4 linked regions of the Homo sapiens genome follow. The protein of the gene in region 3 purifies or fractionates together with the protein of the main gene of each other region. This does not show direct contact. Each region holds a gene or a part of one and is shown on either strand. Other genes may lie near its edges. The genes, in order: FAHD2A, OAT, SOD2 and UBR2.

What was found.
Region 1: the proteins of SOD2 (region 3) and FAHD2A fractionate together in Homo sapiens (co-fractionation; 2 studies listed by BioGRID). This does not show direct contact.
Region 2: the proteins of SOD2 (region 3) and OAT fractionate together in Homo sapiens (co-fractionation; 2 studies listed by BioGRID). This does not show direct contact.
Region 4: the proteins of SOD2 (region 3) and UBR2 purify together in Homo sapiens (affinity purification with mass spectrometry; 3 studies listed by BioGRID and IntAct, with this or other methods). This does not show direct contact.

The regions. Positions count from the first base shown.
Region 1 is NC_000002.12:95,397,707-95,405,722, forward strand, and holds the start of FAHD2A (oxaloacetate tautomerase FAHD2A, mitochondrial), read left to right. Parts: upstream 1-5,001; 5' UTR 5,002-5,166; exon of another isoform or gene 5,167-5,286; intron 5,287-5,293; exon of another isoform or gene 5,294-7,696; intron 7,697-7,846; 5' UTR 7,847-7,852; coding exon 7,853-8,016. UniProt on the Homo sapiens protein: Tautomerase that converts enol-oxaloacetate, a strong inhibitor of succinate dehydrogenase, to the physiological keto form of oxaloacetate. It is thereby required to maximize aerobic respiration efficiency by preventing succinate dehydrogenase inhibition.
Region 2 is NC_000010.11:124,415,914-124,423,127, reverse strand, and holds the start of OAT (ornithine aminotransferase, mitochondrial isoform 1 precursor), read left to right. Parts: upstream 1-4,204; 5' UTR 4,205-4,255; intron 4,256-7,214. UniProt on the Homo sapiens protein: Catalyzes the reversible interconversion of L-ornithine and 2-oxoglutarate to L-glutamate semialdehyde and L-glutamate.
Region 3 is NC_000006.12:159,669,230-159,676,249, reverse strand, and holds part of SOD2 (superoxide dismutase [Mn], mitochondrial isoform A precursor), read left to right. Parts: 3' UTR 1-7,020. UniProt on the Homo sapiens protein: Destroys superoxide anion radicals which are normally produced within the cells and which are toxic to biological systems.
Region 4 is NC_000006.12:42,559,572-42,567,032, forward strand, and holds the start of UBR2 (E3 ubiquitin-protein ligase UBR2), read left to right. Parts: upstream 1-4,457; 5' UTR 4,458-4,748; coding exon 4,749-4,826; coding exon of another isoform or gene 4,827-4,960; intron 4,961-7,461. UniProt on the Homo sapiens protein: E3 ubiquitin-protein ligase which is a component of the N-end rule pathway.

The sequences.
Region 1 (8,016 bases), on a different chromosome or scaffold from region 3:
TTTTATTTCCCCTTTGATTATTCAGCCACATTGTCAATGGAAAAAGTCACAAAATGTAGAAATTTAGCCAGGAGAGCTTTATCTCTTAGAAAGGGTTGCCACCTGCAGGATGGACATCCCACAGGTGGGGAAACGTGGCCTTTAGCAGAAACCAAAAGCAGGCACTTCAGAGGAAAAAGCGGAGAGGCTGAGGTGTATGCCCAAAGACAGGAACTATACATACATATTCAGTAAGTTATGAGACCCTTATGAATATTTATGAGGGGATCCTAACACATGCAACTGAATAATCCTGTGTGTTGCATACAACCCATGTTCACTTTGGGGTGGAAACATAACATTAAATGCCTAAAATTAGGCTCTATAGGTCAAAAGGTAGAAGAACATTAGCCAGGTGCAGTGGTGTGTGCCTGTGGTCCCAGCTACTTGGGAGGCCAAGGTGGGAGGATGGCTTGAGCCCAGGAGGCAGAGGTTGCAGTGAGTCAGCATCATGCCACTGTACTCCAGCCTGGGCAACAGAGCCAGGTCTGCCTTAAAAAAAAAAGAACACAAAGGTACTCAGTGCGCAGCCTCTATAAACTGGCCAGAACCAGCCCATGGTCAGTGGTGTCTTATCAGGAGAAAATTACTGAAGTCAGTCTCTTGTTCAATCAAACCTGTAGTTATGCTTTGTGGAATGGAGTCTGGAGTCTGGGGGCATCAGTTAGCATCTGACAATTGGTAAGTTAGAACATTTATTATTTTAGTGTAGGGGTATGTGACTTTTGCCTGGCATGGCCTTAGTCTTATTTATAATTTCATAATTTATAAGCCACAAAGACTCCATTCCATCAGTCTTATGATCTCTGTTTTACAACCCTGGATTTGTCCAGCTCTCCACCATCTCTTGTCCTAGGTACAAGCAGTTTCTCCAAGGAGGTGTCTACACCCAAACAACCACTGGCCTGTTTCCTGTCACTACACATTCATTTGCATTTCTAGTGTACTGTAGCCCCTTCTTTTTTTTTTTTTTTTTTTTGAGATGGAGTCTCGCTCTGTTGCCCAGGGTGGAGTGCAGTGGCGCAATCTCGGCTCACTGCAAGCTCCACCTCCTGGGTTCACGCCATTCTCCTGCCTCAGCCTCCCAAGTAGCGGGGACCACAGGTGCCCGCCACCACGCTTGGCTAACTTTTTGTATATTTAGTAGAGACAGGGTTTCACCGTGTTAGCCAGGATGGTCTCGATCTCTTGACCTCGTGATCCACCCGCCTTGGCCTCCCAAAGTGCTGGGAATTCAGGTGTGAGCCACCACGCCTGGCCTGTAGTCCCTTCTTATCCATGGTTTTGCTTTCTGAAATTTCAGTTACTCAAGGTCATCCATGGCCCAAAAATATTAACTGGAAAATTGCAGCAATAAGCAATTCATAAGTTTTAAATTGTGTGCTGCTCTGTGTACTGTGATGAAATCCTGCACTGTCCTGCTCCATCCTACCTGGGACAAGAATCATTCCTCTGTTCAGCTTTTCCATGACGTCTGCCCTCCTTGCCCCTTAGTCACCAATGAGCTGGCTCCGTGATTAGATCCACTGTCGTGGTACCGCAGTGCTTCTGTGCAAGGCACCATCATCTGACTTCATAATGGCCCCAGAGCAAAAGGGGAGTGGTGTCGGCATTTCCGATATGCCAAAGAGAAGCCTTCCTTTATGGGAACGCTCCTGACTTAAGGAAATAAAACAAAAATCACATAATGAGGTTGCTAAGAGCTACAGAAAGAACGAATCTTCTATCCATGAAATTGTGAAGAAGGAAAAAGAAATTTGTGCCAGTTTTGCTGTCGCACCTCAAACTGCAAAAGTTATGGCTACAGTGTGTGAGAAGCACTTAGTTAGGATGGAAAAGGCATTAGATTTGTGGGTGGAAGACGTGAACAGAAACATATTCTGATTGAACAGCAACCGTGTAGCACCAGGTTAACTTCATCTGGATTAAATTTGATCACTGGCATGTATATATAGGAAAAGACGTAGCAGATGTAGGGTTTGGTACTATCTGCAGTTTCAGGCGTCCTCTAGGGGTCTTGGAAAGTACCCCCCAAGGATACTCTATACAAATGAAATAATTCCATATGTACTCATTTTTAATCTCTTTTTCACTCTGAATAATTATCTTGATATATATCCATGTTGCATCAACAATTTGTCCCTTTTCATTGCTGGGTAGTATTCCCTAGTGTGGCTATAACAGAGTGTTTACACATTCACCTGTTAATGAAAAATTGAGTTGTTTCCAGTTTGGGGATTTTGTAAAAAGGCTGCTGTGAACATTTCTGTATAAGCCATTGCATAAGCATTTTTTTTAAATTTCTCAGGTAATTACTATAAAACAAAAAAACAAATCTGGATTATATAAGGAGCGAATTTATTCCAAAGGATTGTTGTGGGGGTGACCATTGCAATAGGGAAACGTTGCAGTGCGGCCACTCGCAGGCTTCCCATATGATCTGCAAGTGTCTCAGAGGTTAGGCAAAGGGCTGATCTTGTATAGGGAGGCGTAAACGTGGCTAGAAAGAACTGTTATGGGAAAGTGGGCTGAGCAAGAGTGTCACGATCGAGGAGGTCTTACCCTGCGGACAGCCTGTTCTCAGGAGGGAACCTCAGGAGGGCTGCGGGTTGGCACAAGCTGTGGGTGGGCCAAAGCTCAAGGGCTTGGAAAAGGAGAGAATCTGAACCAAGGTTTGGTTACAGGCTTTTGTTCTTATTGATCTGTGGGACAAGCAGCCCAGCTAATCATTTATGAGGCCAAGAATGGGAATTTAGAGGGTCTGTGTCTGGCCTGGTCACAGATAAACAAGGGAGCATCTGGGAGTCTTATCCAGGTTATATAGAAAGTCACTGGTTCTTTCCAGTAGGGGGTTTTCTGGAACAAAAGAGTGGTGGGATTCCTTAACCTTCACTATTTCTAGAAGCAAAGGGCTAAGGTAAAATTCAATACTGTCAATAGTCAGGATTGAAATGGCTACATCATATGGTAGGTGTATGTTTAATTCTCTTCATACACTGACAAATGGTTTTCGATCGTGGTGGTACTATTTTATAATCCCATCAGCAGTGTACAAGAATCCCAGGTCCTCCACATTCTTGCCAGTACTTGGTATAATCAGTCTTCTTTGTCCATTCTAGTAGGTGTGAGATGGTGTCACATTGCGCTTGCAATTTGCATATCCTTAATGATTAATGATGTTGAGCATCTTTTCATGTCCTAATTTTTTCTTTCTTTTTTTTTTTGAGACAGAGTCTTGCTTTGTCGCCCAGGCTGGAGTGCAGTGGCACGATCTCGGCTCACTGCAAGCTCCACCTCCCGGGTTCCCGCCACTCTTCTGCCTCAGCCTCCCCAGTAGCTAGGACTACAGGCGCCCACCACCACGCTCGGCTAATTTTTTGTATTTTTAGTAGAGATGGGGTTTAACTGTGTTAGCCAGGATGGTCTCGATCTCCTGACCTTGTGATCCGCCTGCCTCGGCCTCCCAAAATGCTGGGATTGCAGGCGTGAGCCACTGCGCCCAGCCTTCATGTCCCAATTTTCTGTCTGTATATCTTATTTGATGAAATGTCAGTTCAAATATTTTGTCCATCTAAAAAATTGAATTGTTTGATTTTATCTACTGACTTTTAAGCATTCTTTCTATATTCTGGATACAAGTCTTTTTATCAAATATAGCCTTTACAGATATTTTCTTCCAGGCTGTAACTTAGCTTTTCAGAAAGTCTTTGGGAGCTATGGCTTAGTGAAACCCTTGTGCCAGGTTCTCCTCAGCGAATCCCCCTGATCACAGCCACCCCCATAGGTTCCATTTCAATATCTGTGGTGACCTTCTGCAAGCTAGGCTGAAGTCCCAAGCTCCAGACCCATGTCTCCAACTGCCCACCGTTCAATGCCCTTTGGATGTCCCATGCAAATCGGAGCTCACCATCCTCTCCCCAGACCCGCTGCTCCTCCAGGAGCCCTGTCTCCATGAACGGCCCTGCACCTACCGAGCTAGAGACCCAGGAGTTGGCCTTGTACCTCCTTCCTTCTCACTTCCACCTCCTGTCATTCAGAGCTGTCAGTTCTTCCTCCTGAACATCTCTGGACACTCACCTTCTCCACCACGCACCGCACCACCATTGTTCTCAACCGCACCACCCACCCAGACACCTTTCCTCAGACGGGTGGCCAGAGAAAAACTTCTCAAATAGAAGTCGGGACATGGCACGCCACTGAGAACCTTCCAGCGGTCTCCTGTGCACGTAAACAAGGTCCAGACTCCTTCGTGGGACAAGTAAAGCTCTTGATGATCTGGTCCTTGAGTAATGTGGGGGCCACTTGTACAGAGCCCCTCACACTGTTCAAAGTCGGCAGCTGAAGAGCTGAGCAGTAGCTGTCTGTGGAGTTCAGCTGCCACTCCCTACACGCCTGCCCTCTGCAGGGGATGGAGTCCCGTTTCCCCACTTCCCCACCTGCGCCCAGCAGTGCAGGTGAAGGCCTGGCTGCGGAGAGTGGCTGGGAAACGCTGCGCTTTGGGGTCAGGAATGCCAGCTCCACTACTCACCGCCTGTGTCACCCTGGGAAAACAGCTCTGGCCCCAGGTTCTCCATAAGTAAAACGGGGGCAGTCATCCCTCCCCTCCTCAACGACATATGTCAGAATCAGAAGCCACAAATCATTCTCTGCCACCCAGCACGCTGCCTTGGTCTCCTAGACCACTTTCCCCAACAATGGGAAAGGCGCCAGGCCCAGAACAAGGCCGAGACCGGATGAGGCCAGCGAAGCGCCCAGGGACAAACCTTCGGGCAGCGCCCACTCTCGAGTTCAGGCAAGTGCAGGGTCCCTCCGAGAGAGAGCGTCTCCAGAGAACGCGGCTGGCGCCTGGCTGAACCCGTAGCCTGAAGACCCGCCGGAGCCGCCCGCCCCACGATGGGCCCGCCCCTCCGGGATTGGCGCCCTGCTAGTGGCCATTGCCTGTGACGTCACAGGATCGCGCCCGCTTTTCTCTCGGGTGATCCGGCCGAGTGGCCCTGGGTTAGCAGCTGCTGCATTTCCCCGGCTGGCTGCGGTCACTGGTGGCAGTGCTCAGGCGCCCGCCGCCCTTGACCTTCGGCCCCGCGAGCTCTAACCCTACAGCGCAGGAAGATCGGCCGCCGCGGCCAGGTAGGACGAGCCTGGCTGGGTCTAGGCCAGAAGGGTGTCCGTGGCGCCGGTCTCCCGCGGAGCGCAGAACTAGTACCGGATCCCCAGCCGCTTCTGACCACACAGACGGGGCGGACCTGTGTGAGCACTCACTAACTGTCGGGGCTGGAGCTGGGCATATGGGGAAACTGGGGGACCGGCACGGGTTCCAGGCGAGTGGACGGTGGGATGGAATCCGACGTGCACACCCATGTCTCAGGCTTTGTTTGATGGAGGCTACTGTTTCCACCTCATGTCGCCGCCCCTTTGCTTATGGACTCTTGCAGAGTTGGATTGAGCTCGGGCTGTGTGATATAGTGGTTGTTGCAGAAGCCCCAGGGCCACTTTCTGACTAGTACCTTGGGCACCTGACATCATCCCTTTGAGTCTCAGTGTCCTCTTCTTTAAAGTGAGGGCGCTCTACCTGAGGAGATTGCTGTAAGGTTGGAATGAACCTGCATGTGTGTGTCATGTGGGAAGGGAACAGTCAGTGGGGCCTGGGGTTCTCTTGGAGAGCTGGTAACCAGCCTCGTCCCTGAGGCAACAGCCAGAGGGCGCCTGTAGTTTCCCCACGCATGTCTGTTAGCAGTTACGGCCTCTGGAGGATCTCCTGTGGGAGGTCCCTACTTCTCACTACAATCTTTAGAGACTTTGGAGGATTTCCTATGGAAGGTCCCCACTTCTCACCACAACATTCTGGGTTAAAATGGCCTTGGTAGGGGGATGGGGGCTGAAGCTGGATTTTTTTGCTTGCATTACAAGCTTCTGAACCAAGGACTTCATGTCACCTGGACTTGGATTCACATCCCAGCTCCTTCCTCTCCTAGCTCTAGGACTGTGTAACCTTGGGCAAATCTCTTAACCTCTTTAAGCCTTAATTGTTTCATCTGTAAAATGAGGCTAACAGTACCTACCTTCCACAATTGTCGAGAATTAAATCAGACATTGTAGGTAGAGCACTTAATAGTTGGCATTCAGCGGCAGCAGTTACTGTTATGTTAGCATGTGGAGTGTCTGAGTGTGTGCACATTGGCTCGAACAGCCTTTTGACAGTGGCACAGTTGGTGCTTGTGTAAGACAGCAGGGCAGAGAAGTCAAAGCCCTCGGTTTTCTAGTCAAACTGGTGGGCCACAACAGTGGTGACCTAAGTCTAATGAATCTTCAACTGAACAAGGCAGATTGAATCTCCAGGTGAGGACCAAGAGTCTGGGGATCAGCTGCCTCCACATTTTTGGGCATAGAAGGCTGTACAATACCGCCTTTGTTGTAAGAGCAAGGAACCATTCAGGGAAGGCACCATGTGGTAAGGAATAGAGGCCAGACGTGGATTAAGAACAAAACAAGAGAATAGTGTTTGTCTTTAAGTGGAGCCTTGGACTCAAAACAGGATCTGAGCCCTGAGGATTTTTTTTTTTTTAATTGAGATGGAGTCTTCGTCTGTCACCCAGGCTGGAGTGCAGTGGCGCGATCTCAGCTCACTGCAACCTCCTTCCCCTGGGTTCAAGCGATTCTCGTGTCTCAGCCTCCCTAGTAGCTGGGATTACAGGTGGCTGCCACCACACTCGGCGAGTTTTTTGTATTTTTAGTGGAAACGGGGTTTCACCACGTTGGCCAGGCTGGTCTTGAACTCCTGACCTCAAGTGATCCACCCACCTCGGCCTCCCAAATTGTTAGGGATATCACGCATGAGCCACTACAACTGGCCCTTGTGGGAAGGCACAGCCATGTCTCCTGAAGTTAACAAGCACTAAGCTTTCCCAAGTAGTGAAATGTCAAGCCCCTGCTTCTGTCACTTATTTGTTCATTCAGCAGAAAGTCACTGAGAGCCTTCTGTGCACCAGGCACAGTGCTGGGCAGTGAAAGAGACAGACATGTGCCCTGGACCCAGGGAGATGACAAGTGATGGCTGTCAGGCCCAGACCCTGTTGTTTGTCTGCAGCCTCTTCCCTCAGGCAACTTGTTCTCTATCAGGAGAAACGAAATAATTATTATCTGGAGAGGCAGGTGGGGGCGCTGCTCCTAGAAGACTGGGACAGCCTGGTAGAGGTTCTAGCTTGATCATGTGAGCAGTGGAAACCATTTTAAGTAGGAGGTTAACAGGACCAAAATAGCATTTAAAAAATTGTTTATGGCCACTGTGAAGCCAGTTTCACCAGCGTCACTTGCCCATGCTGGGCTGCCACCCAGCTAATTCCTGGTCCTGCTCATTTAGCCCAGCTCAGCTCACATCACTTCCTCCAGAAACTAGAGAAGGGTAGAGCCCCTGACCATCTTCACAGCATTAGTCCTGATAGCTGAATCTTACGTCAGTTGTTAACATCTGTGACCTGTGCAGGGAGAATGGCAGGGCTGAGTTTCACCTACATTGTTTCCCCAATACCTACAGCAGAGCCAAGCACAGTGGGAACTTTCAGAAAGCACTGGTTGAAGGAACGCTGGAATCCCTGGGACTTACTGCGTAGCATGTAGTAGTTGCTCCTCTAGAAAAGTTTCACCTTATGAAGTATAGCAGGTAAAATACAAGCCTGGACCACTTCCCGTGTGGTATGCAGGGAACGGTTGATGGGGCAAAGGGCCTCGGGCTATAGCCCTAGGAATTTCAGGGAACCTGATGATGGCTCTGGGATCCTCTGTCTCCTGGATCCTGCATTTTTCTCTGCAGGCTCTGATGCTGGTGTCTGGTAGAAGAAGGTTACTCACAGTTCTGCTGCAGGCTCAGAAGTGGCCCTTTCAACCCTCCAGAGACATGAGACTAGTGCAGTTCCGGGCACCCCACCTGGTGGGGCCTCACTTGGGCCTGGAGACAGGGAATGGTGGAGGGGTTATCAACCT
Region 2 (7,214 bases), on a different chromosome or scaffold from region 3:
AAACGGGGTTTCCCCATGTTGGTCAGTCTGGTCTCAAACTCCCGACCTCAGGTAATCCTCCCACCTCGGCCTCCCAAAGTATTGGGATTATAGGTGTGAGCCACTGCGCCCAGATGAGTGAGTTTTCTTTTCTCAAATTGATAGAGCTAGAGAGCCAGAGAGATATTGTAGGTTAAAAAACGACCGCAGGCCAGGCATGGTGGCTCACACCTGTAATTCTAGCACTTTGGGGGGCCGAGGCCGGAGGATTGCTTGAGCCCAGGAGTTTGAGACCAGCCTGAGCGAGATGTCGAGACCCTGTCTCTATGTGTATTTTTAAATTAAAAAAAGAAAAAAGACTGCAGGCCAGCCTGACGTGGACAGGAAGTGCTCAGGAAGAGGACGAGGCCCCTTCAGTCTCAGTCGTCAGGGAGGGTCTCACCTGGGGGACGGGAAGGGGTTGCAGCCTGAGTTCGTAGGTGGAGCTTGGCTCCGGGAGAGAAAAATTAATACTCCCGTCAGGCACAGCCTCATATGAGGACCCATAGACGAACGGCAACATTTCTGAGTCTCTGTCTATCATTCCCAGTTCAGAACGTTTACCATCGATCACTCTCCCACTGTCCTCGATGCCTTGCTTAACTTGCTCCTTCCAGATCCCTGCCTTTCTGGACTTAAAGGAGGTTTGCTCTCCACCAGACCTAAATACCTGTCCTGACTTGGTGCACTGGGAGCAGGAAGGATGCGTTACACATGTTGCCCAGACTTCTGCTGCGAAGACATCTTTTTAGGGTGAATGTAATCTGGGAAACAAAATTTCTCCTGCAGGTTAAAAATCACCAAACACTTATTTTCTCTGTGTCGTTATCAGTTTTCCTCCTTGGCTGTCAGCTTGGATTTTCCTTTTTAATCATTTGAAGCCCAGGTATATGCAGACTATACTAATAAGAAGTCAGGACGAGTGGGACAATAAAGGAAGCAACGCAAAGCAAGAGATCTGCATAGCCCACCCGTTGTTTTTCTGGCCACTAAATACTAGAGAGTTGTCTGTATAAGAAAATCAATGATTCTTTCCTTTTTTAAAATACAGTTGCAGCTTTTTTAGATGACCAATGTCGCAAGATTTTTGTTCACATCTGTTAAAGGAGCATTTCTGGAACTTCTCCCTCCTTACTGAAGAGACTCATATGGGTCGGGCATGGTGGCTCATGCCTGTAATCCCAGCACTTTGAGAGGCAGAGGTGGGCAGATTGCTTGAGTCCAGGAGTTCAAGACCAGCCTGGACAACATGGTGAAACTCCATCTTTACCAAAAAGATATAAAAATTAGCTGGGCGTAGTGGCATGCGCTTGAAGTCCCAGTTACTCAGGAGGCTGAGATGGGTGGATCCAGGAGGTAGAGGTTGCAGTGAGCCATGACCATGCCACTGCACTCCAGCCTTGGCGCCAGAGCGAGACTCTGTCTCAAAAAACAAACAAACAAACAAACAAACAAACAAAAAGGACTCACATGGTGTTGCCTGATGATGTGAAACCCCTCGCAAGGTCAGGCACCTGAGGCACTCAAAGGACATTTGTCGAATGAACTGATGAAATGAATTTAGGTCTTGGATGTCTGTTATGAGGGCCATGGAGTTTTGCTCTTGTTGCCCAGGCTGGAGTGCAATGGCACAATCTTGGCTCACCACAACCTCCTCCTCCCGGGTTCAGGCGATTATCCTGCCTCAGCCTCCGAAGTAGCTGGGATTACAGGCATGCGCCACTGTGCCTGGCCTGAGGGCCACTCTTTATATCCTCAGGTTTTATGGTCCCCATATAGTTAATTACTTGAATTATTAATAGTTTTTAGAGACTCAAAAATCTTTGTAATGTGCACTTTACCTTTATGTTTCTAGATTGAACAAATAAAATACATACAAATAAAGCAGCTCTGTTTCTTGGTTGAAAAGAAGCAGCTTTCAAGTTCAGGTCTCTCTGTCAAGGCCACATTATGCTGAAAAACAACTCTAGTACAGAGACCATAAAATGTTATCATGCTTTCTGGACCTATTGCATTTTTCTGATAAGAGGAAAGAGATAAAACCCAGACATTTCCAGCAACTTCTTGCATATGAAACTCCTTAAAGAGCACCTTATCTGTGAGCCCAAAGACATTGTAACATACTTTATGTTACCCCTGGATCCTGGGTGTCATGTGCCTCTCCTGAACTCACCTGCTCCTCCTTGACAAGGCATAACTCGGGAGTCTTGGGCTCTATAAGAGTTCCAAGAGCTGGGCATGGCCCCACATACCTGCCCAGGTTTATAGAGCAGGACCATGGAGAAACCATTCCTTTCTGACCCCTTGGGCAGAATAACCTAACTTCCAGGAAGTTAATCACATTGTATTGGGTGCTGTGGAGGAACATGAAAGAAATAAAAGGCAATGTTCTGCTCTCAGTGAGTTCTGGAGAGCCCATGGCCACAACAGTCTGAGAGAGTGACCTTGGTATAGGGCAGATGGAGCCCAGGGGGACTGAATCCCTTTTGGTGTCTTGCTCTGCACATCTGCAGATACTGGCTCTGCTGTTCACAGCTCTGCACCCATATCACTTTCTTATCCCTACCATTTAGCATGGACTTTACTTTCTGCTTAGCTAAGACTTATCTTAGCCAGTTATGTATGTTGGATGTCTTCCAATTGCTCCCCTACCCCGTCTCCACCCTTTTCCACCCTGCTGTTTGTCCCAGGAGGCTGAGCTGTCTTAAAGGGCTCCCCTGGCCTCTGGCCTCCTAATGGCTTCAGCCCATGTGGAAGCCTGACAGGAGATGCTCATTGTCCAGCTCCTTCCCATGCAGTTGCTGATGACTTTGGTGACCAGATAGCCTTTCCCACACTCCTCTCTTTGGGTTCTGGAATTCTGGAAACCCCACTTGGAGGCCGTTGGGCCTAGGATGGATAATGGCCCTCGCTGGTGCATGAGACCCAGGTTATTTCTCCATCCCTTGTGGTTTACTTGCCTACATTGATTGATTGATTGGTTGATTAAGATAGATGGTCTTGCTTTGTTGCCCAGGCTGGAGTGCAGTGGTGCAGTCATAGGTCACTGCAGCCTCAACCTCCTGGGCTCAAGTGATCCTCCCACCTCAGCCTTTGGAGTAGCTGGGAACATAGGTGTGCCACCACACCAGATTAATTTTTATTTTTTTTTGTGGAGACGGGGTCTCACTGTGTCGCCCAGGCTGGTCTGGAACTCCTGGGATCAAGCAATCCTCCTGCCTCGGTCTGCCAAAGTGCTGGGATTACAGGCATGAACCACGGGCCCCCACCACCACGTTTTAGGAAATGTTCACATTGGAGTGTGCCCTCTGTTTCCAGCTGGGCCCCCGACTGGTCATTGTGGTCTAATGGAGTGTGGTGCCGGCAGCTGCCAGCGCCTGCCCTCTGAGAGGGGTGGCGAGGGGCACACAGGACCAGACTGCCCCTACTGTTGGATGACTGGGTAAGTCGCTTTCCTTCTCTGGGTCTCTGTTTTCCAATATTTAACATCTTGTTGTGGGCTAAGTGAAGTCCAAGTCCCTTCCGATTCTAACATGAGGTTGTCCCGGAATATCTATTTTGTGTTCTGAATTTAATAACCGGCTGTGGAGGGCACCACAGGCAAATCTGTACTGTGAGTGGGTTGCTGCCACTCAATTATCTGACAGCAGCTGCGAACAGGTGGGCAGTGTGTTTTCCATAGGCAGCGACGACTTTTGGAGGTGGATTCAGAGGCACAACTAAGCCGCGCGGCGCATCAGGGTTCAAGGGCATGGGGCTCCCGCAGCTGTGGCTGGGGCAGAGCTGGGGCTGGTCCCTCCCTCCAGGAGCACAGGGCGGGCGGTCCAGCCTCACGTCTCTCGGCCTCCAGCCACACCCGGCCCGCGCAGTGGGGGGCCCAACAGACTTTTCCTTTTCGGGCCTCAGTCTTCTCGTCAGCAAGGGCGGACAAGGACTCTTCTCGTCCCGCCAGAGGAGGCGACCGAGGGGCCTGAGCTCAGGTACAGGCCGGCGGGCTCAGGAGGCGCGAGCGCGGATCGAATCCGCGGGAGGAGCAAAGATCCTTGATGCGCGGCCGGAGGGCGGGGCGGAGGACGGGACCCACGCGATTGGTATCCTGCCCTCCGCCCCAGCCAATGAGCGGCGAGGGTGTCTTGGGGGCGGGGCAGAATCAGCCTTTAAGTTGCAGTGACTCTCCGGCGTCACTGTTGCGCTTCATAGACGCCGCGTGTACCCGGTTGTCCTCAGGCGCTGTCAGGTACCGTCTGGGCGCCGCTGTCCTGGGGCTCTGGTTCGGGCCCTGGCCGGGGTTCCCTGACAGCGGCGGGGGAGGCGGGCGGGCGCGGGGTGGCCGCGGCCCGGGTTCGGGGGATGCTGGCTGAGGGGGCGCGCTGGGCCTCGGCCGGGGAACGAGCCCCGCTTCAGCGGCCCGTTTACTCTGCGGGCGGCTCGGACCCGGGCGCCCTGGAGTCTCCGGCCGGCGCGCAGCTTCAGGGGGCAGGGGCGTGGCGACCCACGGCTTGCAGGCCGGAGTCCTGGTTCCAGCCCAGAGCGGCCGACGGGCGGGCGGCAGGGAGAGGCTGAGGATGTGGCAGCCCCGCCTGCCAGACCGGGCGGAGCCGCCGCCCCCTGCGCTCGCGGCCTGTGGAGGCCAGGACTCGGCCCACCCGGCCCAGAGACCCCGAGGCGCCCCGGGGTTCCGGGTAGGAGGCCTTTGGGCACCCTTGGTTCCTGGGGTTGGCGGGGAGGCTGCGTTCTGGGGACGGGGGAGCTGTGCAGTAAACCGGTGGCCCTGGTCACGCGGCGGGGGCGCTGATGCAGCCTTGGAGGGCTGGGTCCTCCCGGCCTGCTCCTGCGCCCTGCAGATCGGCCTGCCCATCGCTCCCCTCTTCCAGCCTATGATTTTTTTTCTCCAGCCTCTGTCGAAATAAAGAAAATTACGGAAGCAGAACCTTCCTTACAGTAACGTGCAGGTTAATTAGATGGTGGGGGATGGGGGGGCAACAGGACTTTCAGCATGAAAACCTCCCGTTGGGGGCTTTTTGCAAACCCTGCTGAGCATCAGTAAATGGGCCTGGCCAGTGCGTTTCCTCGATCGCCTTCCCGGGCGGGACGGGAGGGGTCATTGTCCGCCCTTTGCTGGCGAGAGGACTGAGGCCCGAAGTCACCTGGGCACTCGCCCTGTGACCCACCGTCTCCTTTTGTCACTCTACATCTTACCTTTTCGGTGTTCAGTTTTACCTCTTAGATAAATTACGGTGATAAATTAAGGGCGAACAGACAGTGACTTTGGAATGAAGTGGCTTTACCTTAAGAAATGACTAATGTTCAGTTTCCAAATTCTAAATTTCTCCTTCTGGGATTGAAAGGGTTTCTGTGGATAAGCTAGTTCTTTCAGTTAACCCCGGAACTGTTCTTTAGATTGTAATCAATCGCTCTTAGCCATGTGAAATAACAATAGACTCCTTTCATTAGAATATCCTGGTTCTGTCTTTAGATGAATCTTTTCATAAAAACGAGCGTTAAATTAAAAAGCTTATTTTTAGCCCGGCACGGTGGCTCACACCTGTGTAATCCCAGTATTATGGGAGGCCCAGGCAGGCGGATCACCTGAGGCCAGGAGTTTGAGACTAGCCTGGCCAACATGGTGAAACCCTTTCTCTACTAAAAATACAAAAATTAGCCAGACATCGTGGTGCGCGCCTGTAATCCCAGCTACTCGGGAGGCTGAGGCAGGAGAATTGCTTGAACCCGGGAGGCAGAGCTTGCAGTGAGTTGAGATCGTGCCACTGCACTCCAGCCTGGGCGACAGACTCCGTCTCGAAAAAAAAAAAAAAAAAAAAAAAAGCTTATAGTTTTGGGTTTACAGTTTTTCATGGTGTTTAAGATTAGTTTTGCATCCCCCCCCCAAAGAAAAATCCAGTATAACTTTAAATAGTAAACATTTTTAAAAGACATTTTTCCCTCAAAGCAGCTGTCTTAATATGTATTATCCCCATAGCGTGCCTTTATTACAGTTATTTGTGTGCATATTTTATGCCCTTTAGTGAGTTCTTGAGGACCTTTCAAATCTCAAACATTTACAAATAGTGATGAATGCACGAATTTGGATGTGTGTGGAGGATGTGCTGTAGTTGACCCCGGTCCTTTCTCAGTAGTAAAACTAGTTGTTTGCCAATGATGCACTTGGCTTGAATTTTAGCCAGAATACTGATTACGTCAAAGAGACTTCTGTTGGTAGAACTTTTTTTTTTTTTTTTTTTTAAAGGCCTGTATTTGTGAATGGTTACCTCAGGAAAAGTAAATATTTGTCAAAATAGCAAGAACAAATTTACTCCTCAAGTTGAATATTTTAAGTGGCTTTTGGACAACTTTACGCCGACTATTCTTTTAGAGTAAGAAAATAGTTTTTAAGAGTATAGGCTAAATTAACTTCAAAATGCAGCCTTTTGTGGAAATTCTACTGTAGGTATGTTCTAATGTAGATGGATGGGCTAGATGGAGGGAGTAATGGTAGCCTGAAGGACCCTGTTAATTACGTGGATAAAACCTTCAGTGTTAGAATTCTAGCTTGCCAAGAGCAATTTGTTCTCATTTCCAGGACCTGAGTATGGGCGTCAGGTAGATGCATGATAGCTGCCTGGAACACATTATTTTGACCTTTGAAGGCCATTAGATCTAATGAAGTAAACTCTTGATGAAGAGATGAGTTATTCTAGATGAGGTCAGAGAGTGAACACCCCCTCTTAGAGTTAGACTCAACCTGGTCAGGGATAGGTGATCCCATGGTCTTGATCACTTGCTACCTTGACTCCCTCAGGAGTCCTAAGTAAGACTGACCTCTTTATCTGATAAAGGCCCACAGGATGCCCAACCTGGGCTAGGTTCTAGGAATGCAAAGTGAATTTTACTGTTTTTTAAAGGAGCTTAGAGTATAGACTTATAGGCATAAAAACAAGTGGCCTGCAGTGTTAGGACCCGTTACAAGTCTGCACAGTCCCTGGGAGTCTCTAGGAGGGACTTAAATAGTAAATTCTATAGGGGAGGGTGAAAAAAAGCTAATATGGATGCTAATTATGCATAGAAAAAATAACCAAATGTTAATGGTTATCATGCAAGTGTAAAATTGCTGGTAATTTTCTTGTCTGTGTTTTCTAATTTTTTATCAACTGAAAAATGGTGTGTGTGTGTCTTTTTAAACAGTTTTAAAAATAAAT
Region 3 (7,020 bases):
TACCCAGTAATGGGATGGCTGGGTCAAATGGTATTTCTAGTTCTAGATCCCTGAGGAATCGCCACACTGTCTTCCACAATGGTTGAACTAGTTTACAGTCCCACCACCAGTGTAAAAGTGTTCCTATTTCTCCACATCCTCTCCAGCACCTGTTGTTTCCTGACTTTTTAATGATTGACATTCTAACTGGTGTGAGATGGTATCTCATTGTGGTTTTGATTTGCATTTCTCTGATGGCCCATGATGATGAGCATTTTTTTCATGTGTCTGTTGGATGCATGGATGTCTTCTTTTGAGAAGTGTCTCTTCATATCCTTCACCTACTTTTTGATGGGGTTTGTTTTTTTCTTGTAAGTTTGTTTGAGTTCCTTGTAGATTCTGGATATTAGCCCTTTGTCAGATGAGTAGATTGCAAAAATTTTCTCCCATTTTGTAGGTTGCCTGTTCACTCTGATGGTAGTTTCTTTTGCTGTGCAGAAGCTCTTGAGTTTAATGAGATCCCATTTGTCAATTTTGGCTTCTGTTGCCATTGCTTTTGGTGTTTTAGACATGAAGTCCTTGCCCATGCCTGTGTCCTGAATGGTACTGCATAGGTTTTCTTCTAGGGTTTTTATGGTTTTAGGTCTAACATTTAAGTCTTTAATCCATCTTGAATTAATTTTTGTATAAGGTGTAAGGAAGGGATCCAGTTTCAGCTTTCTACATGTGGCTAGCCAGTTTTCCCAGCACCATTTATTAAATAGGGAATCCTTTCCCCATTTCTTGTTTTTGTCAGGTTTCTCAAAGATCAGATAGTTGTAGATGTGTGGTATTATTTCTGAGGGCTCTGTTCTGTTCCATTGGTCTATATCTCTGTTTTGGTACTAGTACCATGCTGTTTTGGTTACTGCAGCCTTGTAGTATAGTTTGAAATCAGGTAGCGTGATGCCTCCAGCTTTGTTCTTTTGGCTTAGGATCGTTTTGGCAGTGCAGGCTCTTTTTTGGTTCCACATGAACTTTAAAGTAGTTTTTTCCAATTCTATGAAGAAAGTCATGGGTAGCTTGATGGGGATGGCATTGAATCTATAAATTACCTTGGGCAGTATAGCCATTTTCACGATATTGATTCTTCCTATCCATGAGCATGGAATGTTCTTCCATTTGTTTGTGTCCTCTTTTATTTCCTTGAGCAGTGGTTTGTAGTTCTCCTTGAAGAGGTCCTTCACATCCCTTGTAAGTTGGATTCCTAGGTATTTTATTCTCTTTGAGGCAGTTGTGAATGGGAGTTCACTCATGATTTGGCTCTCTGTTTGTCTGTTGTTGGTGTATAAGAATGCTTGTGATTTTTGCACATTGATTTTGTATCCTGAGATTTTGCTGAAGTTGCTTATCAAATTAAGGAGATTTTGGGCTGAGATGATGGGGTTTTCTAAATATAAAATCATGTCATCTGCAAACAGGGACAATTTGACTTCCTCTTTTCCTTATTGAATACCCTTTATTTCTTTCTCCTGCCTGATGGCCCTGGCCAGAACTTCCAACACTATGTTGAATAGGAGTGGTGAGAGAGGGCATCCCTGTCTTGTGCCAGTTTTCAAAGGGAATGCTTCCAGTTTTTGCCCATTCAGTCTGATATTGGCTGTGGGTTTGTCATAGATAGCTCTTATTATTTTGAGATATGTCCCATCAATACCTAATTCATTGAGAGTTTTTAGCATGAAGGGCTGTTGAATTTTGTCCAAGGCCTTTTCTGCATCTGTTGAGATAATCATGTGGTTTTTGTCTTTGGTTCTGTTTATATGCTGGATTACTTTTATTGATTTGTGTATGTTGAACCAGCCTTGCATCCCAGGGATGAAGCCCACTTGATCATGGTGGATAAGCTTTTTGATATGCTGCTGGATTCAGTTTGCCAGTATTTTATTGAGGATTTTTGCATTGATTTTCATCAGGGATATTGGTCTAAAGTTCTCTTTTTTTGTTATGTCTCTGCCAGGCTTTGGTATCAGGATGATGCTGGCTTCATAAAATGAGTTAGGGAGGATTCCCTCTTTTTCTATTGATTGGAATAGTTTCAGAAGGAATGGTACCAGCTCTTCCTTGTACCTCTGGTAGAATTCGGCTGTGAATCCATCTTGTCCTGGACTTTTTTTGGTTGGTAGGCTATTAATTATTGCCTCAATTTCAGAGCCTGTTATTGGTCTATTCAGGGATTAAACTTCTTCCTGGTTTAGTTTTGAGAGGGTGTATGTGTCCAGGAATTTATCTATTTCTTCTAGATTTTCTAGTTTATTTGCATAGAGGTGTTTATAGTATTCTCTGTGTACTCTGTATTTCTGTGGGATTGGTGGTGATATCCACTTTATCATTTTTTATTGCATTTATTTGATTCTTCTCTCTTTTCTTGTTTATTAGTCTTGCTAGCGGTCTATCAATTGTGTTTATCTTTTCAAAAAACCAGCTCCTGGATTCATTCATTTTTTGAAGGTTTTTTTGTGTCTCTGTCTCCTTCAGTTCTGCTCTGATCTTAGTTATTTCTTGTCTTCTGCTAGCTGTTGAATGTGTTTGCTCTTGCTTCTCTAATATTTTTAATTGTGATGTTAGAGTGTCAATTTTAGATCTTTCCTGCTTTCTCTTGTGGGCACTTAGTGCTGTAAATTTCCCTCTACACACTGCTTTAAATGTGTCCCAGAGATTCTGGTATGTTGTGTCTTTGTTCTCGTTGGTTTCAAAGAACATCTTTATTTCTGCCTTCATTTTGTTATGTACCCAGTAGTCATTCAGGAGCAGGTTGTTCAGTTTCCATGTAGCTGAGTGGTTTTGAGTGAGTTTCTTAATCCTGAGTTCTAGTTTGATTGCACTGTGGTCTGAGACAGTATGTTATAATTTCTGTTCTTTTACATTTGCTGAGGAGTGCTTTACTTCCAACTATGTGGTCAATTTTGGAATAGGTGCGATGTGGTGCTGAGAAGAATGTATATTCTGTTGATTTGGGGTGGAGAGTTCTGTAGATGTCTATTAGGTCTGCTTGGTGCAGAGCTGAATTCAATTCCTGGATATCCTTGTTAACTTTCTGTCTCGTTGATCTGTCTAATATTGACAGTGGGGTGTTAGAGTCTCCCATTGTTATTGTGTGGGAGTCTAAATCTCTTTGTAGGTCTCTAAGGACTTGGTTTATGAATCTGGGTGCTCCTGTATTGGGTGCATATATATTTAAGATAGTTAGCTCTTCTTGTTGAATTGATCCCTTTACTATCATGTAATGGCCTTCTTTGTCTCTTTTGATCTTTGTTGGTTTAAAGTCTGTTTTATCAGAGACTAGGATTGCAACCCCGGCCTTTTTTTTTGTTTTCCGTTTGCTTGGTAGATCTTCCTCCATCCTTTTATTTTGAGCCTATGTGTGTGTGTCTCTGTACGTGAGATGGGTTTCCTGAATACAGCACCCTGATGGGTCTTGACTCTTTATCCAGTGTGCCAGTCTGTGTCTTTTAATTGGAGCATTTAGCCCATTTACATTTAAGGTTAATATTGTTATGTGTGAATTTGATCCTGTCACTAGGATGTTCACTGGTTATTTTGCTCGTTAGTTGATGCAGTTTCTTCCTAGCCTCAATGGTCTTTACAATTTGGCATGTTTTTGCAGTGGCTGATACTGGTTGTTCCATTCCATGTTTAGTGCTTCCTTCAGGAGCTCTTGTAAGGCAGGCCTGGTGGTGACAAAATCTCTCAGCATTTGCTTGTTTGTAAAGGATTTTATTTCTCCTTCACTTATGAAGCTTAGTTTGGCTGGATATGAAATTCTGGGTTGAAAATTCTTTTCTTCAAGAACGTTGAATATTGACCCCCACTCTCTTCTGGCTTGTAGAGTTTCTGCTGAGAGATCAGCTGTTAGTCTGATGGGCTTCCCTTTGTGGGTAACCCGACCTTTCTCTCTGGCTGCCCTTAACATTTTTTCCTTCATTTCAACTTTGGTGAATCTGACAATTATGTGTCTTGGAGTTGCTCTTCTCGAGGAGTATCTTTGTGGCGTTCTCTGTATTTCCTGAATTTGAATGTTGTCCTCCCTTGCTAGATTGGGGAAGTTCTCCTGGATAATATCCTGCAGAGTGTTTTCCAGCTTGGTTCCATTCTCCCCGTCACTTTCAGGTACACCAATCAGACGTAGATTTGGTCTTTTCACATAGTCCCATATTTCTTGGAAGCTTTGTTCGTTTCTTTTTACTCTTTTTTCTCTTAACTTCTCTTCTCACTTCATTTCATTCATCTGATCTTCAATCACTGATAACCTTTCTTCCAGTTGATCGAATTGGCTACTGAAGCTTGTGCATTCGTCACGTAGTTCTCATGCCATGGTTTTCAGCTCCATCAGGTCATTTAAGGACTTCTCTATGCTGGTTATTCTAGTTAGCCATTTGTCTAATCTTTTTTCAAGGTTTTTAGGTTCTTTGTGATGGGTTCGAACTTCCTCTTTTAGCTTGGAGAAGTTTGATCATCTGAAGCCTTCTTCTCTCAACTCGTCAAAGTCATTCTCCGTCCAGCTTTGTTCTGTTGCTGGCAAGGAGCTATGTTCCTTTGGAGGGGGAGAGGCGCTCTGATTTTTAGAATTTTCAGCTTTTCTGCTCTGTTTTTTCCCCATCTTTGTGGTTTTATCTACCTTTGGTCTTTGGTGATGGTGATGTGCAGATGGGGTTTTGGTGTGGATGTCCTTTCTGTTTGTTAGTTTTCCTTCTAACAGTCAGGACCGCCAGCTGCAGGTCTGTTGGAGTTTGCTGGACGTCCACGCCAGACCCTGTTTGCCTGGGTATCACAGTGGAGGCTGTAGAACAGCGAATATTGCTGAACAGCAAATGTTGCTGCCTGATCATTCCTCTGGAAGCTTCATCTCAGAGGGGTACCCGGCCATGTGGGGTGTCAGTCTGCCCCTACTTGGGGGTGCCTCCCAGTTAGGCTACTCGGGGGTCAGGGACTCACTTGAGGAGGCAGTCTCTCCGTTCTCAGATCTCAAACTCTGTGCTGGGAGAACCACTGGTCTCTTCAAAGCTGTCAGACAGGGACATTGAAGTCTGCAGAGATTTCTGCTGCCTTTTGTTCGGCTATGCCATGCCCCCAGAGGTGGAGTCTACAGAGGCAGGCAGGCAGGCCTCCTTGAGCTGCAGTGGGCTCCACCTAGTTCGAGCTTCCCGGCTGCTTTATTTACCTACTGAAGCCTCAGCAATGGTGGGCTCCCCTCCCCTAGCCTCACTGCCACCTTGCAGTTCGATCTCAGACTGCTGTGCTAGCAATGAGCAAGGCTCCATGGGCGTGGGACCCTCCGAGCTAGGCACAGGATATAATCTCCTGGTGTGCCGTTTGCTAAGACCATTGGAAAAACGCAGTATTAGGGTGGGAGTGACCCAATTTTCCAGGTGCCGTCTGTCACAGCTTCCCTTGGCTAGGAAAGGGAATTCCCTGACCCCTTGCCTTCCCGGGTGAGGCCATGCCTTGCCCTGCTTCAGCTCATGCTCAGTGGGCTGCACCCACCGTCCTACACCCACTGTCCAACAAGCCCCAGTGAGATGAACCTGGTACCTCAGTTGGAAGTGCAGAAATCACCTGTCTTCTGCGTCGCTCACGCTGGGAGCTGTAGACTGGAGCTGTTCCTATTCGGCCATCTTGGAACCCAACCCAAGTCTGGCATTTTTTGGTTTTCTCTGTGTATTGACTATGATTATAGAGGATAAATGGATATTGATATTATTAAATCGTCATTTACAGAAGGCACACAACTTATATCCTTTAAACAAAGTTCTCCAACCAGTAGGGTATACTTGCTGGTAGTGCTTACAGCTGCCACCATTCTTCACTGGGGCTCAGAGTGGATGCCTGGAGGAAAAAAACAAATGAATCTTTTAGCTCCTAGTTACTGTTAGCATTTTTACCAGAAAACAATTTAAAAAATGACACAAGTAAGTCTTCACCTATCAAGGCTGAGTGTGGTGGCCTATACTTGTAATCTCTGTGCTTTGGGAGGCCAACGCAGGAGGATCTCTTGAGTCCAGGAGTTTGAGACCAGCCTGGGCAACAAAGCAAGACCCCATCTCTACAGAAAGTTAAAATTTAGCTGGGCATGCTGGCACATCCCTATAGTCCCAGCTACTTGAGAGGCTGAGTTGGGAGGATCCCTTGAGGTCATGAGTTGGAGTCTACAGTGAGCTGTGATTACAGTGTGAGTCTACACTGCACTCCAGTCTGGGTGAAAGAGATCCTGTCTCTCAAAAAACAAGTGATTCTCCTGGGAAGAGATTTGTTTAAAAAGTCTGCACCTCTATTGATGATAACTTTGAATGTAAATGGATTAAATTCTCCCACTTAAAAGATATAGATTGACTGAATGGATTAAAAACCACCATCATGACTCGACTGTATGCTGCCTACAAGAAACCTCACCTGTAAAGACAGGCCAAAAGTGAAGGTATGGAGAAAGATATTGCATACAAATGGAAGCCAAAAAAGAGCAGAAATAACTATACTTACATGAGATAAAATAGACTTTAAGTCAAAAACTGTAAAAAGAAAAGTCATTATGTAATGAAACAAGGATCAATTCATGCAAGATATAATCATATTTTTTTATTAAGAAAATTTTTTTGTAGAGATGGGGTTATGCTATGTTGCCTGGCTAGTCTCAAACTCTGGGTCTCAAAGCAGTCCTCCTGCTTTGGCCTCCTAAGGTGCTGGGATTATAGGCATGAGCCACTGTGCCAGGCCTGAGGATATTATCATTATAAATATATATGTACCCCACACTGGATGACCCAGATATAAAGCAAATATTATTAGATTTAAAGGGAGAAATAGACTCTAATACAATAGTAGTTGAGGACTTCACTCTACTCTCAGCATTGGACAGATTTTCTAGACATAAAACCAATAAATATTGGATTTAAATTGCACTTTACACCAAATGGACCTGACATTTACAGAACATTCTAATAGGTGCAGAACACTCTAATAGCTGCAGAACACACGTTCTTTTCATCAGCACATGGAACATTCACCAGA
Region 4 (7,461 bases), about 120 Mb from region 3:
TAATACTGAATTATGGCCAAGAGCCGTGGCTCACACCTGTGATCCCAGCACTTTGGGAGGCCAATGAGGGCGGATGACTTGAGGTCAGGAGTTCCAGACCAGCTTGGCCAACATGGTGAAGCCCTGTCTCTACTGAAAAAAAAAAAACAAAAATTAGTTAATTAGTTGGGTGTGGTGGCAGGTGGCTGTAATCCCAGCTACTCAGGAGGCTGAGACAGAAGAATCACTTGAACCTGGGAAGTGGAGGTTGGAGTGAGCTGAGATCATGCCACCCCACTCCAGCCTGTATGACAGAATGAGACTCTCTATTTAAAAAAAAAAAAAAAAAAAGAAAGAAAAAAAATTGAGTGAAATTCCTTGGTGACAGAGTGAAACTTTGTCTCAAAAACAAACAAATAAACAAACAAAAACTCCTTTTCCCTAGCCTCCTGTACTTCTTTCTTGGATATAAAATCTTTGCTTATCTCCTCCAGTGTTTTTAATAACATTTGTAAAAGTTCTTTCCAACTTTCTGACTTGTGTCTGTTTCTTCCTTCGTCATTTTTGTTTTAGTCTCTCTTCCATAGGCTTTGCTCAAGTATCTGTACACAACCGCCTGTCTTCATATTTAAGAATGACTTACTAAAAATATGATTAGAAGTTTTATGCATGGGTGGGGTGAACTGACTATACCATTTTGTTGGGGTCTTATCCTCTACAGAATTTTTTTTTTTTTTTTGAGATGGAGTTTCACTCTTGTTACCCAGGCTGGAGTGTAGTGGCACAATCTCGGCTCACTGCAACCTCCACCTCCTGGATTCAAGCGACTCTCATGCTTCAATCTCCCGAGTAGCTGGGATTACAGGTGCCCACCACCATGCCCAGCTTTTTTTGTATTTTTAGTAGAGACAGGGTTTCATCATGTTGGCCAGGCTGGTCTTGAACTCTTGACCTCAGGTGATCCACCCGCCTCGGCCTCCCAAAGTGCTGGGATTACAGGCATGACCTCTACAGATTTTTTTGGTGGTGAGATAATCTACCCCTCTGGAGAAGACCCTCCCAAACTCTTGCCTGGGAGGTATAAGCCTGGCCACTAAGGTTCTCAGAGCCAAATGGGGAAATAAGCTAGGTTATCCCTGTTCACTATGTAGACTTTGATTCATCTCTCTTGAATGCAGTGCGGTATCCCTGTCCTCAGCTGTGTCTGGTGTCTCCCAGTCAAAAGGCCCTCAAGTGTAGTCACTCTAGAGGATAAAGCTCTAGTCTTCTTCCAGAGTAGGAAGTGAGATCTAACTTCTTGCTATACAGACTTTCAAACAATAAGCTTGCTTTTAGCATTGTCTTCACCCACTTTCAGAGTTACATGGTGCCTCAAATTTTTAAGTCTTTCAGGGTACTGCATATTAATTAGCTTGACTCAGTGTCTCTACTGCTAGCGGAGGTTTCAGCATTCTCTTAGTTACTTCTCAACCACTTGCTTTCCACCAAATTTTGGTGCTGTCATCCTCTCTTCTTTTCTTTTTTTCTCCCTTTACTGTCATGAGGTATTCAATCTGCCACATTTAACTGGAAGTTGGGGCTTAGCTCTTAATGCCCCCATGGGAACAGAAAACAAGACCCTGGGTCAAAGAAACATTGGAATTGCAACTGAGATCCTCTACATAAAGCCAGGGCTTTCAAAGGAATGTCGTATCAGTGAAAGGGTAGACTAGACAAAAAACCCACCAACTGGCATACAAAAATGACAAAGAAGCTCTTTACCTTGACTCTGAGTAGGAAAAAGAACTCTCCTTAAAAATTCATAGACAGGCCGGGCACTGTGGTTCACACCTGTAATCCCAGCACTTTGGGAGGCTGAGGTGGGTGGAACACCTGAGGTCAGGAGTTTGAGACCAGCCTGACCAACATGGTGAAACCCTGTCTCTACTAAAAATACAAAAATTAGTCAGGCATGATGGTACGTGCCTATAATCCCAGCTACTTAGAAGGTAACTATGCTCACCACTATACCACCAACGCATCTAATCCCAGCTACCTAGGAGGCTGAGGTAGGAGAATCGCTTGAATCCGGGAGGCAGAGGTTGCAGTGAGTCAAGATTGCACCATTGCACTCCAGCCTGGACAACAAAGTGAGACTCTGTCTCAAAAAAACAAAAATTATAGACAGAGAAATGGCACACAACTGAATTAATACTATTAGGGAATCTTCAAGCCTAGAAACTGACGTACAATTGGTCCTAGATACAGGATACTCCTAGAGTGCCTGGTCCTGAGTATACGATGTTTTCTAGGTTGTCTGGCCTTGCAGAAGCAAATGAAAAAGTATTTTGAAAGTATTAATACATGGAGAGTCCCACTGCTAATGCTACTAATGCTAAGTGAAGATGATCTCCAAATTCATAATTATGACACACAAGGGAAACAATTTTTTTTTGAGTCAGGCTCTCATTCTTTCACCCAGGTTAGAGTTCAGTGATACAGTCATAGCTCACTACAGGCTTGAACTCCTAGGCTCAAGTGATCTTTCCTGTCTCAGCCTCCCAAAGTAGCTAGGACTACAGACATGGGCCACCATGTTCGGCTAATTTTTAAATTTTTTTGTAGAGATGGGGTCTTGCTATGTTGCCCAGGCTGGTCTCAAACTCCTGGCCTCAAGTTATCCTCCAATCTTGGCCTCCCAAAGTTTTGGTATTACAGGTGTGAGCCACAATGCTCGGCCTGAAACAAATAATGTTAGGAAGCAAATAATGTTAAGAACAGAAATTGCCTTTACAGTCTATTAACGACTTAAATTCTATGTTAGGACAGCTCAAGAGATGTTGTTTTTGCTTCTAGGCTGGGACAATCCCAGTTTTCTTCCAAGTTGACTCTGTCCTGAGTGGATCAGTGTAAGGAAGTTGGGCAAAAAAAGAAAAATACATAGAAGAATATTTCAAGATATCTCATTATAAATATCTGTACAGATATGTGCATACTTTTTTCTGGACAGACTCATAAGACAGTGTCAAAAATGATTTTCTTTGGGGAGAGGGACTTGGGGTAAGAGGAATAGGAAGTTTTCAATTTTCCTTTTTTAAAACATTCCTTTCGAGTTTGAATTTCTGATGTTTTATATGTATATATATATATAACTTTTAAAAAGTGATAAGAAGGCTTACTTGTATTGTGAGGTTACAGGGATACAGGCAGTTTCTTATTTCCTTTTTTAAAAAACTGGTTAATATCATAGTATTGGTTTAAAAAAAATCCCAAAACAACATAAACATAAACATGTCCTAAACCTGGTCTGGCTCAGAACTTTTCCCCCCTATATGTAATTTACAACCTACTTCTGGGAATAAATTAACACACTTGACAAAAGGTATAAACAATTTTCTGACAAACTCTAGAGACTGAAGACTTCTAAGAAGCCCAGTCACCCAGCTGTCAGTCAAGAGTCTAATTACCTTTAACTAAACATAGTTTTCTTTGATAGCTAGTCTAACAATGTTTACCTATTTCTTTTTTTTTTTTTTCCTTCTTTTTTGATACAGGGTCTCAGCTGTGTCACGCAGGCTGGAGTGCAGTGGGCTGATCACAGCTCACGATGGCCTCAACTGCCTGGGCTCAAGCAATCCTCCTGCCTCAGCTTCCCGAGTAGCTGGGACTACAGGCGTGCCACCACACCTGGCTAATTTTTTGATTTTTATCAAGAGGGTCTCGCTATGTTGTCCAAACTGGTCTCAAACTCCTGGGCTCAAGTAGTCTGCCCCCCTCGGCCTCCCAAAGTGCTGGAATTACAGGCATGAGCCACCAAGCTTGGTCTGATTATCTGTAGAAATTAAATGTCTCTATCAAGAGGAAATCTTTTAATTGGCCTAATAGACTCTTTTTCCTTTGCAGCAAGATTTGTGATAAAGTTTATAAGTGGTCATCACTAAAGTTTTTGAAAAATTTTTTAAAACATGTTTTAAACCTTCAAAAAAGTGGGTAATGTTCACCTCCATTACTCGTATAAAAGATATGGGTTCGATGGATGACAGGACATAGAACCACAGGAATAGAATGTAATTCATTCATTCCTTTGACAAGTATTTGAGTGCCTACCCTATGCCAGACTGGCAAGTCCTTGAGGGTCTACCATGTGCCAGGCAGTGTTCTTGAAGCTGGGGATACAAAAATGAACAAACGAGATTCGGAGAATAAAACTACAGTTCCCACAGTATCTTTCTCTTTGGCTTTTTTCCAGGGGGCGCTGCTTTCCGCGACTGTCTTCCCATGATTCTCGTTGGGCAGAAAAGCCCCGCCCGCTTATCTGCCATTTAAGCCAGCGCCCCTTGAGAATGGACTACAACTCCCACAATGCATTCGAGGGGCACCGTGTTAGGGCGCCACCTTTTTCCCGGCTGTGCTGTACCTACAGCACCCAGAACTACAGTACCCAGAAAGCTCCGCTTCCCCTCCTGGGTGTTATTGCCCCTTTCCTGGTGCAGGACGCGGTAGTGGCCAGCGAGAGTGTCAGGCCTGGGGTTTTCTGTGTCCTTCCCTGGGTCAGGGACGAGCCAGTGACTTGACTCTTGGGCGCTAAGCTTGGGAGGGAGCGCAGGAGGCCGCTGTCCTTCCTTTCCGGTTCACGTCACCCTTCTCTCCCTCTGTTGCTCCACCTGCAGCCACTTGGACGGCTCCGGGACTGATTGCCTGGGGCAGGGGTGGCAGTCGAGGCCGCCGGGGCCGAGGTGAGGCTGCAGCTCTCCGGGCGGCGGTAGCGCTGGGGAGGAGGAGGAGAGAAGATGGCGTCGGAGCTAGAGCCAGAGGTGCAGGCCATCGACCGGAGCTTGCTGGAATGTTCGGCCGAGGAGATTGCGGGGGTGAGTGCCGGAACCCGGGCGGGTGCGTCTGCCCCTCGCAGGCCGCGCCTGTGGGGAGGAACCGACTCCTGGACGTCCTGGAGCAGCCCGACCCAGACTTGGGGAAACAGCTGTGCCGGCCCTCGCCTTGTGGGGTAATAGCCCGGGGAGGCCACCGATCCTGCCCCTCTCTTTCCATTTTCAACAGCTGCCAGAGCTGCGCTGTGCACTAACTACGTTTACTTTCCCTTTCTGCCCAGGAGAACCCACGGCTCTTCCATCATACCTCCTTTCCCCCAGCCTCCCATTAAGTCTCCCAACACATGGGCCTTTGCCCTTTATATCAGCTCTTGGAAGAGGAGAAGAGACGCTTCTTGTGTTTTTGGTATAATCGCCCTAGTTTATCTAGTTAATTGCTTTTCCTGAGACAAGCGAAGCCGTGTGCTCCTCCGACTAAACATGCCACCCTAACCGAGCCCCTCTTTTGTTTTTGGGACTGCCCCAGGCACCAAGAAGGCAAACGACACTACCCTTCGTTATCCGTTTCAGTGCTATCTTTTTTTTTTGCACCGGTTTGATTAGTTGACAACGTTGATGCATGTGTGGAAAGTTTACTGAGTATGAGAAAGTAGTCGTGGAGTCTGGGAAATTTTAAAAATATTTTTTCTAGGAGTTAGGGGTAATTGGATGGAGAACAAATGTTATATAACGTTGATAGAGCAGCTTTCAACAAATACTGTATAAGCTAAACGTGAGAACTGGTCACAGTGTAGTAGGAGCAGTTATATTCCAAACGTAAAACCGTTCAAACGCACTATTGCATTAAAACTGTAATATGAATATGCTAGTGTAAATAGCAGAGTTGTAGGAACACCCATTAGAAGAGATTGCCGAGAATGATTATGAATGGACCAAGACAGCTTGGGCCCCACCTCTAAGACCTCCAATTAAAAAGGCTGCTAGGAAGGGAGTGACCCGTGAATAAAAGTCAGCAATCTGAATGCTACGAACAAAATTTGGGATTGGGGGCACTGTGGAGCTGTTGGTCAGTGAGTAGTTATTTTGCGTGAATTGGTGAGGACATTAAGTCCGGGTAGAAAGAAATGTCAGGAGTAGAGGTGAAGACTTTAAAGAAATACGTTGTTAAATGCTGAATCTTTGCTTGTTTGGGTGTGTTTTGTTGTTGTTTGTTTTTGTTTTTGAGACGGAGTTTCGCTTTCGATGCCCAGGCTGGAGTGCAGTGGCGCGATCTCAGCTCACCGCAACCTCAGTCTCCCGGGTTCAAGCGATTCTGCTGCCTCAGCCCCTCGAGTAGCTGGGATTACAGGCATGCACCACCACGCCCGGCTAATTTTGTATTTTTAGTAGAGTTGGGGTTTCTCCATGTTGGTCAGGGTGGTCTCAAACTCCCGACCTCAGGTGATCCACCTGTTTGGGCCTCCCAAAGTGCTGGGATTACAGGCGTGAGCCACTGCGCCCTGCCTTGGTGTGTTTTTTTAAACCTACTTACTTGTTTAGCCTAGGTCTGTTTTCATTTACTTTCTACTTAATGTTGTACAACTCAAGGAATTTCTGCCTTTCGTTTATCGGAGATTTGAAAAAAGAAAATGAAAGTAGTGTTACAAGTAAACTGTTAAATAATAATGACAGCTGTTTGCTCTCCATGCCTCTTCTAATTGATATCTGTTGCTTACCTCAAAGTACTGTTTTGATTTTTTTTCTCTCACTGAATTTTGTGTCTTGGTCCAGTGATACAGGGTACAAATTCCGTTATCCCATTCTAAAAGTGCAAACTATCAAGTGATTAGAGGTTCTCCAATTTGTAGAGGCTCCTGAGGAAACTGGTTATAAAAGTAGTGCGGGAGGCCAGTGCTCCTAGTTCTTGTTCAGTGAAATTCTCAAGCAGATGCAGTAAGGAAAAATCAAGGAAAATGCAACAAAAAATTATTAATTTGGACTTCATTTGAGTTTGTGAAGATCATAATCTGAGCTACATTTTACCCTGTTTACTTTTTTTGTTTGTTTTTTTGAGACAGTCTTGCTCTGTCGCCAGGCTGGAGTGCAATGGCGCAATCTTGGCTTACTGCAACCTCCGCCTCCGGGGTTCAAGTGATTCTCCTGCCTCAGCCTCCCGAATTACAGCTGGGATTACAGGCGTACGCCACCACGCCTGACTAATTTTTGTATTTTTAGTAGACACAGGGTTTCACCACATTGGCCAGGATGGTCTCGAACTCCTGACCTCAGGTTATCCGTCCGCCTTGGCCTCCCAAAGTCCTGGGATTACAGGCGTGAGCCACCGCACACAGCCTACCCTGTTTACTTTTAAATGCCTTTCTGAACAATAAGTTTTTTTTTTTCTTTTTTTGGTAAGAGATGGGGTCTTGCACTGTTGCCCAGACTAGAGTATAGTGACATTATCATAGCTCACTGCAGCCTTGACCTCCTAGGCTCAAGAGATCCTCCTACCTCAAAAACCAATATTAAAATATAAAATTCCTTCAACTATATAACCTTAATCTTGCCTTACTTTGTGAGGACTTTACTGTCTGTATTAAGTTAAAACACCTAACATTTAAAACTGTTTTTTTCAGCTTAGGCTTCAGCTTTTTTATCACACATTTAAATTAATAAAGTTTTTTCTTAGGTTGAAAGC